Linked DNA regions of Homo sapiens: region 2 is linked to region 1. The links come from fine-mapping of genetic effects on gene expression. A gene starts in region 1. The other region holds a variant in brackets. All regions are shown on one strand. Distances are from middle to middle.

Region 1 (8,329 bases):
CCTTGTATCATTCCAATTCCCCAGGGGGGTTCTTCTTGGGTGGCCTGCAGGAGTCCTCCTTATGAAGTCCCAGCTACACCCCACCCCAAATAAACTCCCAACAGTGTCTCACCACCATGTGCTGCCCACCTGCACAGGGGGAATGCCGTTGTTGCTCTGCCGGAACTCGCCCTCGTCCCCAGCACTGATCTCCTCATAATCATCCAGCATCCGCACTCGCATCCCTGGCTGCAGTGTCTGCTGCACATATTCTCCATAGCCACTACGGCTGGAGAATTCAGAGCGCTGGCGGAAGACCCACCCTTGTCTTCTGGGGGTGGTGACAATGGTGGGGAGTAAAAGGCTGGGGCCTGAAATGTAGGGCTGAAAGATGGACCGGGTTGGCCGGGGAGGTGACATGCCCTGTTCGCTGAGGTTCCGGGCCCAGCCCATGCTCCGCACAAGCTCAGAGATGAGGTTGCCCACAGCCATGCTGAACTCCAGTTCCCGCTGTCCCCGGCTTTTCTCTCTTGTGGCACATGGGGAGCTTTGGTCTCCAGCTCCCAGCTCTGGACTGCTATTCAGCTGATCCAGGAGGGACGTGACACAAAGGTAGCGCTTCACCAAGGAGAAAAGCAGCTTTCCTGGGATCTGTAAGACACAATCCTTGGGACAGGTTCATCTCTTCCTGGCTTTAGCCTCTCCCCTTCCCTGAAGTATCCTCCTCTACAGAAAAATATAAAGGCCTTCTCCCCAGGCCTGTAGTTCTGAAACTTTGATTTGTGTAAGAAAGGCATAGGGAGTGTCTTAAAACACAGATTCCTGGGTTCTCATCTCAGAAATTCTGAATGGAGAGGGGCTGGGAGGGAGGACATGAACCTTCATGTTAACAAGTTCCCAGGTGGCTCTGGTGCTAACATTCAGTCCTGAACCACGTTTTCATAAATAATGTCTTAGCCCTTGTACACAGCATTTCCCTACAGCTGGCAGTGTACCTGAGGCAGATGAATGCCCTCAAAGGCCATGCAGTGTTCTTCAGAGGATGTGGTTTCTGCAAACAGCTCCAGCAATGTATAGCGACTGTCAAAATCCATGTGCTGCTCGATGCCATCTTGCTGGCTCAGTGATAGAAGGACGTGAGCCCGACTCCCTGTAATCCATACCCAATCCATATCTTCTCCTCAATCCCCAGTACTTTCTCCCTGCCTTTCCTAGATTCTATCTCCTACCCCAGACGCTTTCAAACTTTGTTACTAAGGCTCACAGAAAGAAATACATTTTACATGGTAACCTGTTACAAACATACATACATATAACTGAAACATATATTTTATGCTACAAAATTTACCCCTACTAAGTGCTACACACTAATGACTTAAGTTTTTAAAAAAATGTTGGTTGTAACCCACCAAATTGATTTCAAAACCAACTAATAAATCTCAATCCAGTTTCAAAAATACAGATAAGTCCTATTCTCTTCTCTGGTCAATGCACTGAGAATGAACAGATAAGCCAGAGGCTATCATTTTAGCCTCTTTATATACCTGAAATAGCCTATTAATCTATATTTTTTCCTTTGCATCAAATTGATATTCACCAAATACTAGGTGTTCTTACAGAGCTAGGAAATCTCTCCTCTTTCTTATTCCCTGTGGCCCCATTTTCTCCATTCCTTTCCTTCTTCCCTGGCTGTCTCTTACCAGCATCGTGGGCTGCCAGAGCCTGCAGCATTTTGCCTGCACTCCGGCGGATCTGAGGCTCAGGATTGCATAACATGTGCATGAGCAGGTCCAGGGCTCCTGTCTCCCTGAAGACACCAGTGAGGGGCCCGATGCTGGCGTAGGCACTGAGCACGTGGATGGTGTGAAGCACAGCGGCCGTGAGGCTTGGGGTCCCACTTTCTGCCAGCTGCCTGGCCGCCCTGCGTACCAGCGCCTGAACATCAGCCTCCATCTCTCCCATTGCCACTTCATCCAGGCCTCCTGGATCTCGAGGAAAGCTTCCTGAAACCCCAGCTGGTTCGTGCTGAAGTCCCTTAGATAGTGCCCGCTCACCTAACAGCCCAGGGCAGTTGGCGTAGACCTCAGGAGCCGACAGCCACATGAGGATGTGCTCTGCTTTGCCTTCTTCCACACCCACTTTGCCCACTTCCCCACACTTCAGGACACTCCATCGGATCAGGTATTCAGGATGCCCGTCATGCCCAGGCCTCTGTCGAATGAGTTCTTCAGGATATGCCTGCAGCCGAGGCCCTAAGGGCACCATGAGGTCCCCAGCATGCCGTTCCCCCACCATCCTGACCTCCTGGGATACACAAGGAGAAAGATAAGGCAGTATGAGAAAAGAAAAAAAATACATGGAGGGGGTGGAATCTTGAGACACAGAGAAGGTGGGTGGTGATCGGTAGGCTGCATGGTAGAATTTAGGAGGCCAAACAGAAAAGGCAAAAAATAGGATGGAATAAATAGCTGAACATACTTTGGGATTTATAACAGAAGGAGAATGGAGTGAAGACAGAGAGGGGATGAAGAAGGGGTTTAAGAAATGGAAGAGTTGGCTGCGCCCAGTGGCTCACGCCTGTAATCCCAGCACTTTAGGAGGCCAAGGTGGGCAGATCACGAGGTCAGGAATTCAAGTCCAGCCTGGTCAACATAGTGAAACCCCGTCTCTACTAAAAATACAAAAATTAGCCAGGTGTGGTGGCACATGCCCGTAGTCCCAGCTACTCAGGAGGCTGAGGCAGGAGAATCACTTGAACCCAGGAGGCGGAGGTTGCAGTGAGCCAAGACCGCGCCACTGTACTCCAGCCTGGGCAACAGAGTGAGATTCTGTCAAAAAAAAGAAAAAAAGAAAGAAAGAGAGAGAGAGGAAGGAAGGAAGGAAGGAAGGAAGGAAGGAAGAAAGGAAGGAAGGGGAGTTTACAAAAAGAGAATTAAAACAGTAATAGGCAAAGTAACAATAAACAGAGTGACAGTTAAGCAAGACAGTTTAGGCAGGATAGCAGGGTGGCTGAGGGTTACAGATTAGGACTTAGAAGAATGACATGGGTGGACAGGAAGGACAGCAGCATGTGAGGCAGTGGGATCAGAACATGTGAGGAAAAGTAGGATAGCGGAGGGGCAGGACAGGGAGCATAAATGACAGAGTAAAGCTGCAAGGTGGATGTAAAGGGTGGGCCATGGCAGATATAGAGAATGGAGATGACAAAAGGCTGGGATGTTGGGGCAAATGACTGGATAGGAAAAGTATATTCGAGTCTTGTGAAAGGGGGAGGGCCCTAGGGACCAGATAAAATTATGGGAAAGATGACCAGGTCCCACCCTGCCCTTATACTGCATGTATGGTAAGGATTTAAGTAAGTTAAGTAGATAAGATAGAGGTGGTAATCATGGGGTTAAAGGTAGGAAATGAGGTCAGGAGAGAAGCAATATTCAGAGACTTCAGTATCAGATAAATGTGACTCTGAATTCTGGCTTTCTGTCTCACTGTCTGCATAGTTTGGAACAAGTTACTTAACCTCTGAGCTTGTTTCCTCTTCTGCAAGATGGTAGTAATATTCATAGTTACTTCATGAATTTAGTAGGATCATGTATGTAAAGCACTTGGAACAGCATCTAGCACATAAAGAGTGTTCAGTAAACATAATCTGTTATTATTCTTAGATGGAGAAGGTAGGGGAGTCATCAAATAAATGCAAAGTTATTAAGACCGATTATAAATGGGAGTGGAATAATCAGGAAAGATATGCGTGATATGAAGCAGTGCAGGGGCAACAGGGAATAGTGAGAATAAGAATGGAAGAAGGTAAACCCAGATGAAGATATAGTGGTCAGGGCAGGGGTCATGTTGGGGTACAGGGACAGAAGATGAGAGTAGAGGTGAAGAGGAGGGAGAAAGATGGATGTGGACCTCAATGGAGGTAGGGGTCCACTTAGGATGGGGGGCAAGCCTGGATGGTAGCCAGCGATGTGCCAGCGGGCAACTGATTAGCAGCAGGGGGAAGTAAAAGAATCGGATAGGAGGAGGTAGGAGGTGTAACGTCGGCCTAGAAGAGCAACAATAAACTGAGGTGTGGGGGTGAGCTCTGGACGCATGGATGAGACCAGCAGATAGCAAGGTCAAGCCCAAGCTTGCAGAGCCGTGGGGAGGTGGAGGAGGCCAGCACCGCAGAGGGAACGGGTTTGGGGGGAGGGGGAAGGATGGTTGGGGGCGCGGTCCAAAAAAGCTGAAAAGATCCAGTGAATCTCAGAGAGCAAGACCTGGTTCCCTTCGTCAGCCCCATGGACAGTGGCTAAAGGACCGGGGAGGGGACAGGAGAAGGGGAGGGATTGGGTCGGCGCAGAACTCTCCTCTCACCTCCCACCGCCCGGCTCAGCCCTCGCTGGGACCCAGCGGCCGGTCCCGCCGTCCTGGCCCCGCCTCCTCAGAGCTCCCTTCCGGGTCACACGGCGAGTGCACGCACGGCCGGGCACCTACGGGTCCCACCGCGGCCCACGCCGAGCGTGGCGGAACAGCGCGCGAGTGGAGCATGCGTGCTACCGCGGGCGGCTGCACTGGAAGAGGGGCGTGGGGGCGCGCTACCGGAGGAGCCTGGGATCGAGGTCACGTTGCTCCTCTCTCAGCAGCAGGAAGAAGCCGTTTCCATCCAGTCAACTGTGAAGCCCCCTCCTCTTCACTGGGTCGGCCCTCCTAATCCTCCCTCTCCCATCACAGCGATCATGCTGACGAAACATGGTAACCCACATTCCCACCTTAAGGCTGCCCTTTTTGACTTTTCAGTAGGTCAGGTGCCCATGAGTTTCCCAAACCCTTCAGCAATGCTTTGGATTAGTTGTGTCACTTTTCCTGTTAATTAAAATTTGCTCCTCTGCGTTGGCCTTAACACCTAGCGAAGCCACGCACAGGGAGAAGGTCCTCGGCCCCGCAAAACTTTCCTTAAATTAAATCGTATAGAATTAAACAGCCCAAAGCACACCTTAGCATTACCGTTCTCATCAAGCAGCCCGGATCGCTACTCAGAGCAGCAATTTTAGGAGTTTGCCTCGCGTTCATACCCCCATCCCTCCCTAAGTAGAAAAACAGAACCAAAGACCCCACAGTCTGTGCACAAAAATGATACATTTATTGAAAGAGTATTTTTTTTTAATACAAAAGAAAGCTCTGTACATAGGACTGTGACCATGTCCACTATTCCTGGGTCAGCATCCCAGGGGAAGTAGAAACCACTGACATACACACTCACATTCAAGCACACACACTCACTCAGGCGCACACACCCACACACACATACCCCAGAGCCACCGAGGAAGGGAAACACCAAGGGTCGCTGCACATAAAAATATCACCTCAACTCATCCCTGACACACGCATGTCCTCCCAAGGCCACGCTCACACAACACACATTATAAGCACTTTGCCTGATTCACTCACTGGGTCTGTCTTTTGTGGGAAGGAGAGGAAGAATTCATCAAAGGTCTCCTCCCCATGGGTGGGGGAGTGGGGAGTGAGTGAGTGATGGTGGAGTGAAACAAGAGCAGAGAAAAGGGGCTGGGCAGTTACAGACCTGAGTCCCAAGCTCCCCTGCTCTCTGGCCCCTGATTTGCCATGCCCCAGCCTTGAAAGCCACCCATAAGCCCCAGCTATCTCCAGGAGAAAGCCCAGAAAGGTGACTTCCATCTTGGCACCCCAAACTGGGGCAAGACAGCAATGAGGGTTAGAGGTTAGGGGGTTCTCAAACATGTCGGCAAATCATCCCCTTGATAACTAGGCTGTGCATAAAATCTTCCCCCATCCCTTCACCTAATCACAGAAGCCAGCTTGTTCCTACTGAAGGCAGTCTTAGGGGTTAAGAAAATTTCACCCCACTGCTGCCCTGTTTCTGAAAAAGCTCCCCTTCTGGATATAGGTGGTGAAGGTAGGCTCTGACACAGGGTAAAAGACCCTCCCCCCTATGCTGGCCCACCCTCAAGGTCTACCCCAAAGGGGGAGGAGGGGGGTGGGGCATGGCCCCTGTACAAATTACATAAATACTGAGGTTACACTTAGAAAAATAAAGTCATTTTCTTCAAGGCTTTTTGTCTTAATTTAAAAAAGTTACAGTAGCTGCTCACTCCCTGGGAGAACTGCCCATTTCTGGCTCCCCTTTGGCTGCACTCAGCCCAAGAAGCTGCTCCCACTTCTTCTGACCCCCATTCCTGCCTCTCACCCCCTCCCAGACCCCACCCTGCTCACTGCAACTTGGGCCCCAGGCAGCTGCATGCCTGGGACAGCGCAAGGCTGCAATGCCCATGCGTGTGGCACAAATGAAGTCAGTTGCCTCTGCCTGACGCCCTCCCACCCCAACCCCGACATTTGGTCTCCCTCTTCCCTCTCCCTAGCAACAGCCCTAAAGGGCAAAAAGAGGCCCAGAGCTGTGGGTCACCCTCCCCACCCCGTTGGGGAATGGCCTGAGGGCCCCTCCCCCGGCTTTCTCCTGGAAACAACCCAGGACTGGGCAAACCCAGAATCTCCCCCACACACTGGTGGACCCCGAGCTCATGGGGTGGCTCTGTCCCCAGGGGCCCAGCCAGTTCTGGGGAGCCTGAGGGCTCCCCAGGGAAGGGGAGTTTGGGCAGGGAGGGGGACGAGAAAAACGCCATAAAAAAAAGTTAAATATTTTAAAAATATATATTTATAGATTTGTTTTCACTTCGTCTCCTCAAATAAAAAGTTCAAAATCAACTTTAAGTAAAGCAGCTGGGAGGAGAGGGGGGAAGACAAGGGGGAGAAGGGAACGCTGGTGGTTCCCTCCAACCCAGGAGCCCCTGGAGGTCCAAGGGGAGCGGCAAGGCAGGGCAGGCGGCCCCAGGAACCTGCCCAGTGCACAGGCCCAGCTACTCAGGAGCTGAAGGGGGAGAGGACAGCAGTGTGAGGAAGAAGCCCCCATCTCCCCAGCTGGCCCCCTGAGGGGCAGAGCCAGGGCTCTTTTGACCCAGCCTGTGACAGACACAGGGCTGACCTGGGGTCAGCAAGGAGGCTGGCAAGAGGGCCCCAACTGCTTCCTCAGAGGAGGACACGGTGCCCAGCCCCACAGAAGGCCTGTGTGTGGGGAGGTGGGGCACGGTCCCATTGGGTAAGCTAATACTCATGGCAAACATCGAGCCAAGCTGGCGAGGGGGTCCCAGGAAGGAGGACAGCCCCTCCAGCAACAGAAATGGGAGGTGGGGCGGGAAGAAGGGGAGGCTGAGGGAGGACGGGTGGAGGCAGGCAGGCCCATTTCTTTGGCTGGAGTGAGAGGGCTCAGTCCTGTGGCTGCCCGTTCCTCCTCCCCGCCTCCCTCCTGCGGCCCGTCAACGTGTGTGTAAAGAAAACGTGAAAAGGCAACAATAAATAAGTGGTGCCATCCCTTGGGCCATCTGTCCAGGGCGGCGGGCGGATCATTCACTCTTGGTGCTGTGGGCGGTGTCCAGGTTCACCACCTGTAGCTCGGTGAGGTTGCTGCTGCTCCCGGCCTGCTGCCCTATCACAGCCATCTGGAGGGAAGGGGATGTATGAGGAGGGGCAGGGACTGGCCAGCCAGTTCAGGCTCCCCTGGCTTCCCTGCCTGCCAACCACAGGCCTGAGCAGAAAAGCAGATGGGCTTCCAGGCTAGGGATTTTGGCTTTGATGAACTGGTAACAGGATCCCCTAAGGTCAAGACAAAGAAGTGGCTATCTGGGATGGGGTGAAAGATATCCCTACCTACCTGGTGGAGCTGAACTGCTGAAACAGGGATCTGCACTGTCCCAGATGATGCTGTCAGGAACACCTGGGGGACGCCACCTACATTGGAAAACCACAGGAGATACTCAAATTGTTTGTTGAAACTTCCAGATATTGGAGGAGTGGTGTCAAATGCACAAGTGACTGGGGCAGTCTCAGATGTAAGAGCCCAAGGGAAAGGGTGCCAGTGTGTCTGAGGGTGCATGCGGGTGTGAGTGTCCAAGTGGGGTGTCCAAATGTGTGTGTGAGCATCCAAGTCTGTGTTGTATTTGGGTAGAAATATTTGTAGGCATCAGTGCATATGTGTGTGTATGTGTGTGTGTGTGTGTGTATAAAGAAGGAAACGGTCCTCCTTTCCTTAGCCCTGCTCCTCTACTCACCTGGCTCCTGGACCTGGCTGTGTGACACCTGCATGGTGGATGGTGCCTGGGAGAAGGCATTCAGCACGGTGAGGCTGCCATCACCCAGGCCCGAGGTGGGGGCATACATCACCGCATGCGGGCTAGGGTACATCATGTGGCCACCCACAGTTGTGGGCACGGATGACGTCATGATGGTGGCGGGCAGCGTCACTGGCAAACACAGACATGTGTCAGCTCGGCACTGGTCC
Region 2 (8,329 bases), 510 kb before region 1:
TTGACTTCCCGGGCTCAGGTGATTCTCCCACCTCAGCCTTTTGAGTAGCTGAGACTACAGGCATGCACCACCGTGCCTGGCTAATTTTTCTGTGTATTTTCAGTAGAGATGGGGTTTCACCTGTTGCCCAGGCTGGTCTCAAACTTCTGGGCTCAAGCAATCGTCCTGCCTCAACTTCTCAAAGTGTTGAGATTACAGGCATGAGCCACCACGCCCAGCCAGAAAAAGAATTGAAAAGGAAACAAGAAGCATCAACCATAAAAGAAAAAAACTGATAAATTGCACTATATTAAAATTTTTTAAATACTCCTCATAAAAAAAAAAACTACAGGAGAATGAAAAGGCAACCCACAGAGAGGGAGATGACATTTGAAGTACATATATTCAAGAAAGGATAAGTATCCAGCATATATAAAGAACTACAAATCAATAAGAAAAAGACAGGCCAGGAGCTGTAGCTCATGCCTGTAATCCCAGCACTTTGGGAGGCTGATGCAGGAGGATCGCTTGAGAGGAGGACTTCGAGACCAGTCTGGGCAACATAGTGAGACCCTGTCTCCACAAAAAAATTAAAAACAAGCTGGGTATCAGGCTGGGCGTGGTGGCTCATGCCTATAATCCTAGCACTTTGGGAGGCCGAGGTAGACAGATCACCAGAGGTCAAGAGTTCGAGACCAGCCAGGCCAATATGGTGAAACCCCCGTCTCTACTAAAAATATAAAAATTAGCTGGGCATGGTGGTGGGAGCCTGTAATCCCAGCTACTCAGGAGACTGAGGCAGGAGAATTGCTTGAACCCAAGAAGCGGAGGTTGCGGTGAGCCGAGATCATGCCACTCCACTCCAGCCTGGGCGACAGAGCTAGACTCCATCTCAAAAAAAAAAAAAAAATTAGTTGGGTATCATAGTGTATGCCTATAGTCCCAGCTCCTCAGGAGGCTGAGAGGTTGGAGGATCACTTGAGCCTGAGAGGTCAAGCCTGCAGAAAGCCACGAATGTGCCACTGCACTACAGCCTGCGTGACAGGGAAGTCCTGTCTTTAAATAAATAAATAAATAGAAAAAAGAAAAGCAAAACACAGGCAACCCAATATAACATCAGCCAAAATATTAAACACACATTTTACAAAAGAGATGTCTAAATGACCTATATTGCTATATAAACTGCACGCTTGAAATTTATTGGCCAGGTGTGGTGGCTCACGCCTGTAATCTCAACACTTTGGAAGGCCGAGGCAGGTGAATAATTGGAGGTCAGGAGATCCATACCAGCCTGTCCAACATGGTGAGACTCTGTCTGTACTAAAAATACAAAAATTAGCTGGACATGGTGGGGTGCACCTGTAATCCCAGCTACTCGGGAGGCTGAGGCAGAAGAATCACTTGAACCTGGGGGGCGGAGGTTGCAGTGAGCCAAGATCGCACCATTGCACTCCAGCCTGTGGGACAGAGTGAGACTCTGTCTCAAAAATAAATAAATAAATAAATAAATATAAATAAATGGTCTATGAACATATGAAAAGTTACTCATCTTCATTAAGCATCAGAGAAATGTAAGATAAATACACAGTGAGATCCTACTACACGCCAACCAGAATGGCAAGATTAAAAATACCAAAAAAAAAAATCAAATATTGACAAGGTGTGGAGCAATTAGAACTGTCACACACAGTTGATACCAGAGTAAACTGGTACAATCATTATGGAAAATTGTTTGACAGTATCTAGCCTGGCCTTTGGGCCAGACATGGTGACTCGTGCCTGTAATCTCAGCAGTTTGGGAGGCTGAGACAGGCAGATTGCTTGAGCCCAGGAGTTTAAGACCAGCCTGGGCAACATGGGAAAACCCCACCTCTGCAAAAAATACAGAAAATTAGCCGGGCATAGTGTCATGTACCTGTAGTCCCAGCTACTCAGGAGGCTGAGGTGGGAGAATCACCCGTGCCCAAGAAGTCCAGTCTACCGTGAGCCATGATCACGCCACTGCACTCCAGCCTGGGTGACAGAGCAAGACTCTGTCTCAAAAAAAAAAAATTTAATTTAAAAAGGCTTTTGTAAAAACTGTCAAGGCAATATCTTCTACTAAAGCTGAGCATAGGCATACCCTGCAACCTAACAGTTCTACCGCGAGATAGGCCCCAAAGAAGTTTGTTCTTGTGTTCACCAAGAGTCACGTAGAAGAACGTTACAGCACTCTTTGTAGTAGTCCCAAGTGGCAAGTATCTAAATTCTATCAACAGAAAAAAAAGTGATTTTTTAAAATATAGTATATTCACAGTGGAATATTATATAAAGGTCAAATGCAGGGAAAAGTAATGTATTGTGCTAAAAGTCAGGATAATGATTATCCTTGCGGGGTAGTGTCTGGAAGGGGACACAATGGGGTGTTCTAGAGTGCCAGTCAAGTTCTGCTTGAACATGCCACTCCACTCCAGTATGGGTAGTGTGTCCCTTTGCGAAAATTCATCAAGCAGTACACTGATGATTTGTGTGTTTTGTTGTTTTTTGTTTGTTTGTTTGTTTGGGTTTTTTGTTTTTTTTTTTGAGACAGTCTCACTCTGTTGCCCAGGCTGGAGTGCAATGGCGTGATCTCGGCTCACCGCAACCTCCACCTGCAGGGTTCAGGTGATTCTCCTGCCTCAGCCTCCTGAGGAACTGAGATTACAGGAGCCTACCACGCCCAGCTAATTTTTGTATTTTTAGCAGAGATGAGGTTTCACCATGTTGGCCAGGCTGGTCTCGAACTCCTGACCTTAAGTGATCCACCTGCCTCGGCCTCCCAAAGTGCTGGGATTACAGGCGTGAGCCATTGTACCCAGCCTGTGTATTTTTCTTACACAGGTAATACTTTAATTAAAAGATGTGTTGTTTTTTAAAGCTAGTCTCCTGATCCAAACCTGGTCTCACAGAATTGTAGGGACTAATCATAAATGGATTCAGAAAAATAAGATATTATAAGGCAAAGAATATCCACAGTATTATTTCATCTTGCTAAATGTAAACAATGCTTATCTCTGGATTTTAGATGACATTTATTTTCTTTTTACTTTATTTATTGTTTCATTTTTCTACAATGATCACATGTTACCTGTCATAGTTGTTTTTTAAAATAAAATTTGTTTATGATAAGTTAAGATAAGATAATGAGAAGAGGGTTGGCACTCGAATGCTTTAGCTCACTGTGTCCAAAGCAAGCCCTGGGTGGGGCTCTGTTGCTGCCCTTGTCTCTACTGGATTCCTGGAAGTTGGAAATGGGTGAAGAAACAGAGGATGTAGTACAAACACAAAAGGTCATCTATACATCTATAAGCTCAAGGTCATCTATGCAGAACAAACTTGGAAGCTATAGGGAGAGTCAAAGCTTTCTTGATCCTGGCTGGGACACCTAGACCTACACCTCACTAAGACCCTCTGCTTCACTCCTAATCCATGTGTCAGTCTCTACCACCTTGATTGACTTTTCTTTTAAGTTTCCCCTTCACCGGGTTTACCTTTGCTAAATGAGATGTTTTAACGTAACCCAATGCTGCATTTCTCCTGTTCTCCCTGTCTATGGTGATGCCACTCACATTTTCCATACAGCAGCTGCTCTGCATCCTCCTATTAGGGTGACGGTCCCAACTGGATGATGGGCTCCTCTCCTACTCATCAGAAAACATGCTATGTCATTTAATAAGCCTGATTTTCCCATCTTGAATCAGAGAAGGATAGGAAGAACTGAGTTGTGAATGATTTTCCTTTCCTGTGGAGCTCCAGAGGAACATCCTATACGTCTCACAAATCTGAAAGAGGAAAAACTGG[C/GC]AGTTGTATTTTCTCTTTGGTACCATAAGCTTCCTTACAACACAAGTGAGTCCAACTTGTGAAAAGAGTCATCTCCATAACTGCTCTATTAACTAGCTTATGTTTATTGAGCCCTTTTGTTTTGTTTTGTTTTGTTTTGTTTTGTTTTTGAGACGGAGTTTCACTCTTGTCGCCCAGGCTGGAGTGCAATGGTGTGATCTTGGCTCACTGCAACCTCCGCCTCCTGGGTTCAAGCGATTCTCCTGCCTCAGCCTCCCAAGTGTCTGGGATTACAGGTGCCCGCCACCACACCCACCTAATTTTTGTATTTTTAGTAGATAGGGTTTCACCATGTTGGTCAGGCTGGTCTTGAACTCCTGACCTCAGGTAATCCACCCGCCTCAGCCTCCCAAAGTGCTGGGATTACAGGCATGAGCCACCACACCCGGCCGATCACTTATGTTTTATCACATCTAATCTTCAGGGTCTAGTCCTCCCCTAGGCCCTATAAAATAGATTCTACTCATTCATTCAACAAGTATATATTGTACTCTTATTATGTGTCAGGAACTATTCTAAGTGCTGGAGATGTGCGAGTCAACAGAAAACAATGTTCCTGACTTCATGGAGCTTACAGTCTGGTGAGAAGACACATACAAAACAAACATAAAACTGAAATTGTCCCAAGCACTAAGATGGAGAGGCATCTGGTGCTGAGAATGGGCAGTCAAGCAAAACTGTGGAAATAAGGTTTGAGGTGAGCTCTAAGAAATAAGCAGAAGCTAACTAGACAGCTAAAGAGCAGACAAAGGAAATAGCTTGTATCAAGGCCCTGGGGCTAGAGAGAGGTCTAAGTATATGCAAATCAAAGATCAGTGTGGCAGTGGTCAGGGAAGAAGGGGGTATCAATTCTATCCCAGGTCTGCCTGATATCCGATACTCCAGAGCCAGAGTTCCTAACCATTTCAGCCTCTCCCGTAGAGGTCTAGCCCCAGTCACAGAAGCTAAAAGTCCACAGCTCACGTGCAGTGAAGAGAAAGCTTTAAAGACATAGGTGGGGTGTTGCGTGCGATTTTCCTAAGGAAGCCTTCCAGGAAACGAATGCAACCTTGAAGACTTGTAGGCATTGGCAGACAGGAGCTAGAAGACCTCCCCTAGATCCTTAACACGAAATATAGGCTTGACGCAGAAGCCTCTCTTCGTATCCCAAAGCGGACAGGTGAGAGAAATGATGTGACAGGAGCAAGCGAACTACAACCCCGCCCCGCCGTTCCTGCCCCACCACTGCGGCGGCGGGCGCTACGTTCCGGAAGCGGAAATGGACGAGAGGTCAGGGTAGGTTTTTGAAGATGGCGGCCCTCAAGGCTCTGGTGTCCGGCTGTGGGCGGCTTCTCCGTGGGCTACTAGCGGGCCCGGCAGCGACCAGCTGGTCTCGGCTTCCAGCTCGCGGGTTCAGGGAAGGTGAGTCATGCGTCCCAGCAACCTCCTGAAATTAAGAAGAGCGGCAGAGACTGCTTCCGCCAGCCCCGGTGCGCTCCTTCCTACCTTTCCTTCGTCCGATTCTGAAACTTTGGAGGTACCGGCTCCCCAGGCGTGCTTAAAAGCCCCTTCCACACCCTGGTGCCTTATCTTGATCTCCTGCCCCTTGTGAGTATCTTCACAAGGCGGAGGAGGACGGAGAGAAAAGCCTGCTTACTTAGCAGGAGCAGACACTAAACCTGTCCTAGGGCTCAGAAAAGTTTTCGGAAAGGGTTTGCATGTTAATTCTTCCTTCCATGTTCTCCGAATCGCAGTCTCTTTTATTAAAGAGTCTCTGGATCACGAAGGAAGGCCATCTGGGTACCCTCCCAGAGCCTCCCTTTCCACTTTCCCTTCTCAAAATGCTGTGATCTGATGGCGGCGTTCTCTGCCCCGGGCCGCTAGTCTCCCTGTGAGGGGGAGGCCAAAGTGGAAAGGCCATTGAATAGCTGAGACATAGGCAAATGCAGGATGGTAGTTCAGCTTTTCATTAATCTTAATCTGGGAAAGCGGCCTGATTCGAGCATCAACTGAGAGTTTACTGAATGCCAAGTGCTATGCTTCAAGCTGTGAAGGAATTCTGGAGACAGAAAATACAGCCCTTTTTCTGAAAAGCTTAGGTTCTAATGAGATTATGTATATACACACTCCAATAAATGCAAGTTAGCCTTTTACGTGACGAAGTACAGGGAGACTCAGTTACTGGAAACGGCAAACCCAGTTGGAAGTTTTCATAAAGAGGATGTGTCTTGAGCAGGCTCACAAAAGGATGGAATCTGGCGGAGAGTGAAACGGTCTTTTAGGACATAGCCTTCCTTTGTGTACTCCTGGAAGCAGGAAAGGATGAGTGATGTGCAAAAGAAGAGATGTGGGGTTTTTTGAGGATCTGGCATAGTATTGGGCAGCATATCCTTTAACGAAAGCTGAGAAGTATCCAGTGGAAAAGAGTGATCATTGTTGTCAGAGGGAGCAGAAAAGTCTAAAAAGGGCCTAATGAAGGGGCCATTGGATTTGTCTCAGAAGAGGTCTCTTTGTAGCTTTCAAACAGCAATTTCAATAGAGTGGCAAACAAGGAATCCAGTTTGGAGAAATGAAAGAGATAGTTGATGAAGAGATGGAAATAGTAAGTATGTTTGAAGAATTTAGCCCGTAAGGGAAGTGGAGCATTTGCTAGAAAAAAAAGTCTGGATATTGCCTGATTAACTTATCCATTAGTAGACCCATTAATAAAGACACTAAAGAAATCATGCAGATGATAGAGAGGACTTGGATGTTTCATTTGTTCCCATGCTGCAAAATAGGCATATCTCCATACCATTTTGGGGAGTCTACCAAGTGTCAAACACTATTGGCTACAATTTGCATATTCTTATGAAATTCAAAGTTGAGGCAGATTTTGCTATGCTTCCAGAAAAAAAGGCAAGAGGAATCGTTTTGTTTTAACAACAAATATTTGAAGTTAGACTTAATTTTTTCCTTTGGAGAGTTTGTGAAATGATGGACTGTAAGCCAGGTACAGTGGTACATATCTTTAATCCCAGCACTTTGGAAGGCCAAGGTGGGAGGATCACTTGAGCCCAGAAATTGGAGTCTAACCTGGGCAACGTAGTGAGAACGCCCACCTCTTTAAAAAAAGTAAAAAAGGATGGACTGTAAATCAAATGGGTCTCTGAAGTCCTTCATCTAAATGTTAGGTTGAATTAATATGATTCTACATGAAGGCACTACCATATTCTATATTCTTAAGAATCACCTATCTTCAAAGCTTGTAAATGAAAACATTTTCTTTTGCTAGTCTATGCATTATGTGTAAGGCATAAAGTATTATACATATAGCTAATTTTGACTAGTCTCAGCTGGTATATGTGACACCCAAACAATATTGTACACATAGAATTTAAAGTTGTGGGAAAGAAGCTGGTTCTCTTGCTGAAAATATTCAGGCATCCTACTTTTCAAAGTATCAGATAATAATACATAATTTTAGTCAGCTCTTGAGGACTGAGCACCAATTTTCCTGTCTATGAAGACTTTCAGTCTAAAACAGTGATTTTCAACTGGGGGGCAATTTTGTCCCCCAGTAACAATTGGCCATGTCTGCAGACATTTTTGGTTGTCACAACTGGTACTACTGGCATCTGGGGGGTAGAGGCGAGGGACGCTGCTAAACATAATGCACAAGTCAGTTCCCCACAACAAAGAACCATCTGGCCCAAAATGGCAGTCCTGCTGCTGTTGAGAAAGCCTGGTTTAAAGTTTGACCAGAGAGATACACAAAGCCAAAAAAAGGTTATTATGGGAAAAGCAAGACTGAAGGAGGACGAAAATAGAAATTGTGACTTACTGTGCCTGCTTCAAATACTGTGCTAGGTTTTCCACATACATTTATTCAGTCTTCTCAAAAACACCTTAAAGGTAGATATTAACTGTCCTCATTTTTATAAATGAGGAAATGCCGTTCCAAGGGGTTTAATAGCTTGCCCAGCATCACCTGTCTAATAAGTGATGGAGTTGGAAGTAGAGCCAGCCCTCTTCCCTCTCCACCAGTAACATCACCTTGGTATTCCATGGCAGGGCCTCCCTTATTGTTCCCTCCTTCCCTGAAAGCTCTTAGCAGTTAACTTGCCAAAGACCATTTAGTGCCATTATGGTTGGCACTGCCAGATTTAGCAAAGACTGTGTTGGATCTCATTCCTCCCTTATCCCTCTTAGAGCCCTTGTGAAGGAAATGTATTTAAAATAAAAAAACAAACATATTATTATATAAATTAAGACATGATTTGTCAGACACTTAGAGAAAGGTATATTGAAGTGAGTAAAGGCCAAAGGGAATTTGCTTCATCTCTTTCACAGTCAGTTAAGAAGGCCTTCTGGAAGACCTAACGTTTCAGACAAGGGTATGCCTGGCAGGTTGGGCAGTCCCATATAAAAGCTTTGAGAGAGGAGTGAGTTGGAGTCTTTAAAGAATTCAGGGGACATAGTCCAGAGTAACCTGCTAGTGGGAAGAAATTTTTGTGCAGCAGTAAGACGACTC

What was found. PIP is the estimated chance that this variant, and not a neighbour inherited with it, causes the effect.
Region 2: its variant is fine-mapped to the expression of CUL9 in left ventricle (GTEx, PIP 0.97).

Annotation. Positions count from the first base shown.
Region 1 is chr6:43,178,256-43,186,584 of GRCh38, reverse strand. It overlaps CUL9 (cullin 9), which reads right to left and starts at 4,389. Exons shown (of 41, transcript NM_015089.4): 1 at 4,336-4,389; 2 at 1,680-2,283; 3 at 975-1,129; 4 at 130-630. The coding sequence starts at 2,274. It overlaps SRF (serum response factor), which reads right to left. Exons shown (of 7, transcript NM_003131.4): 5 at 8,100-8,291; 6 at 7,703-7,779; 7 at 5,079-7,490. The coding sequence ends at 7,395. RefSeq lists enhancers at 1-205, 4,649-4,718, 7,721-8,220, 8,221-8,329 and silencers at 4,189-4,238, 4,259-4,398.
Region 2 is chr6:43,684,577-43,692,905 of GRCh38, reverse strand. MRPS18A (mitochondrial ribosomal protein S18A) reads left to right here and starts at 5,115. Exons shown (of 6, transcript NM_018135.4): 1 at 5,115-5,238. The coding sequence starts at 5,127. LOC124901320 (a long non-coding RNA gene) reads right to left here and starts at 3,944. Exons shown (of 2, transcript XR_007059586.1): 1 at 3,567-3,944; 2 at 3,013-3,235. RefSeq lists enhancers at 4,745-5,356, 5,302-5,361. The variant C/GC (reference allele first, on the strand shown) is at 3,799.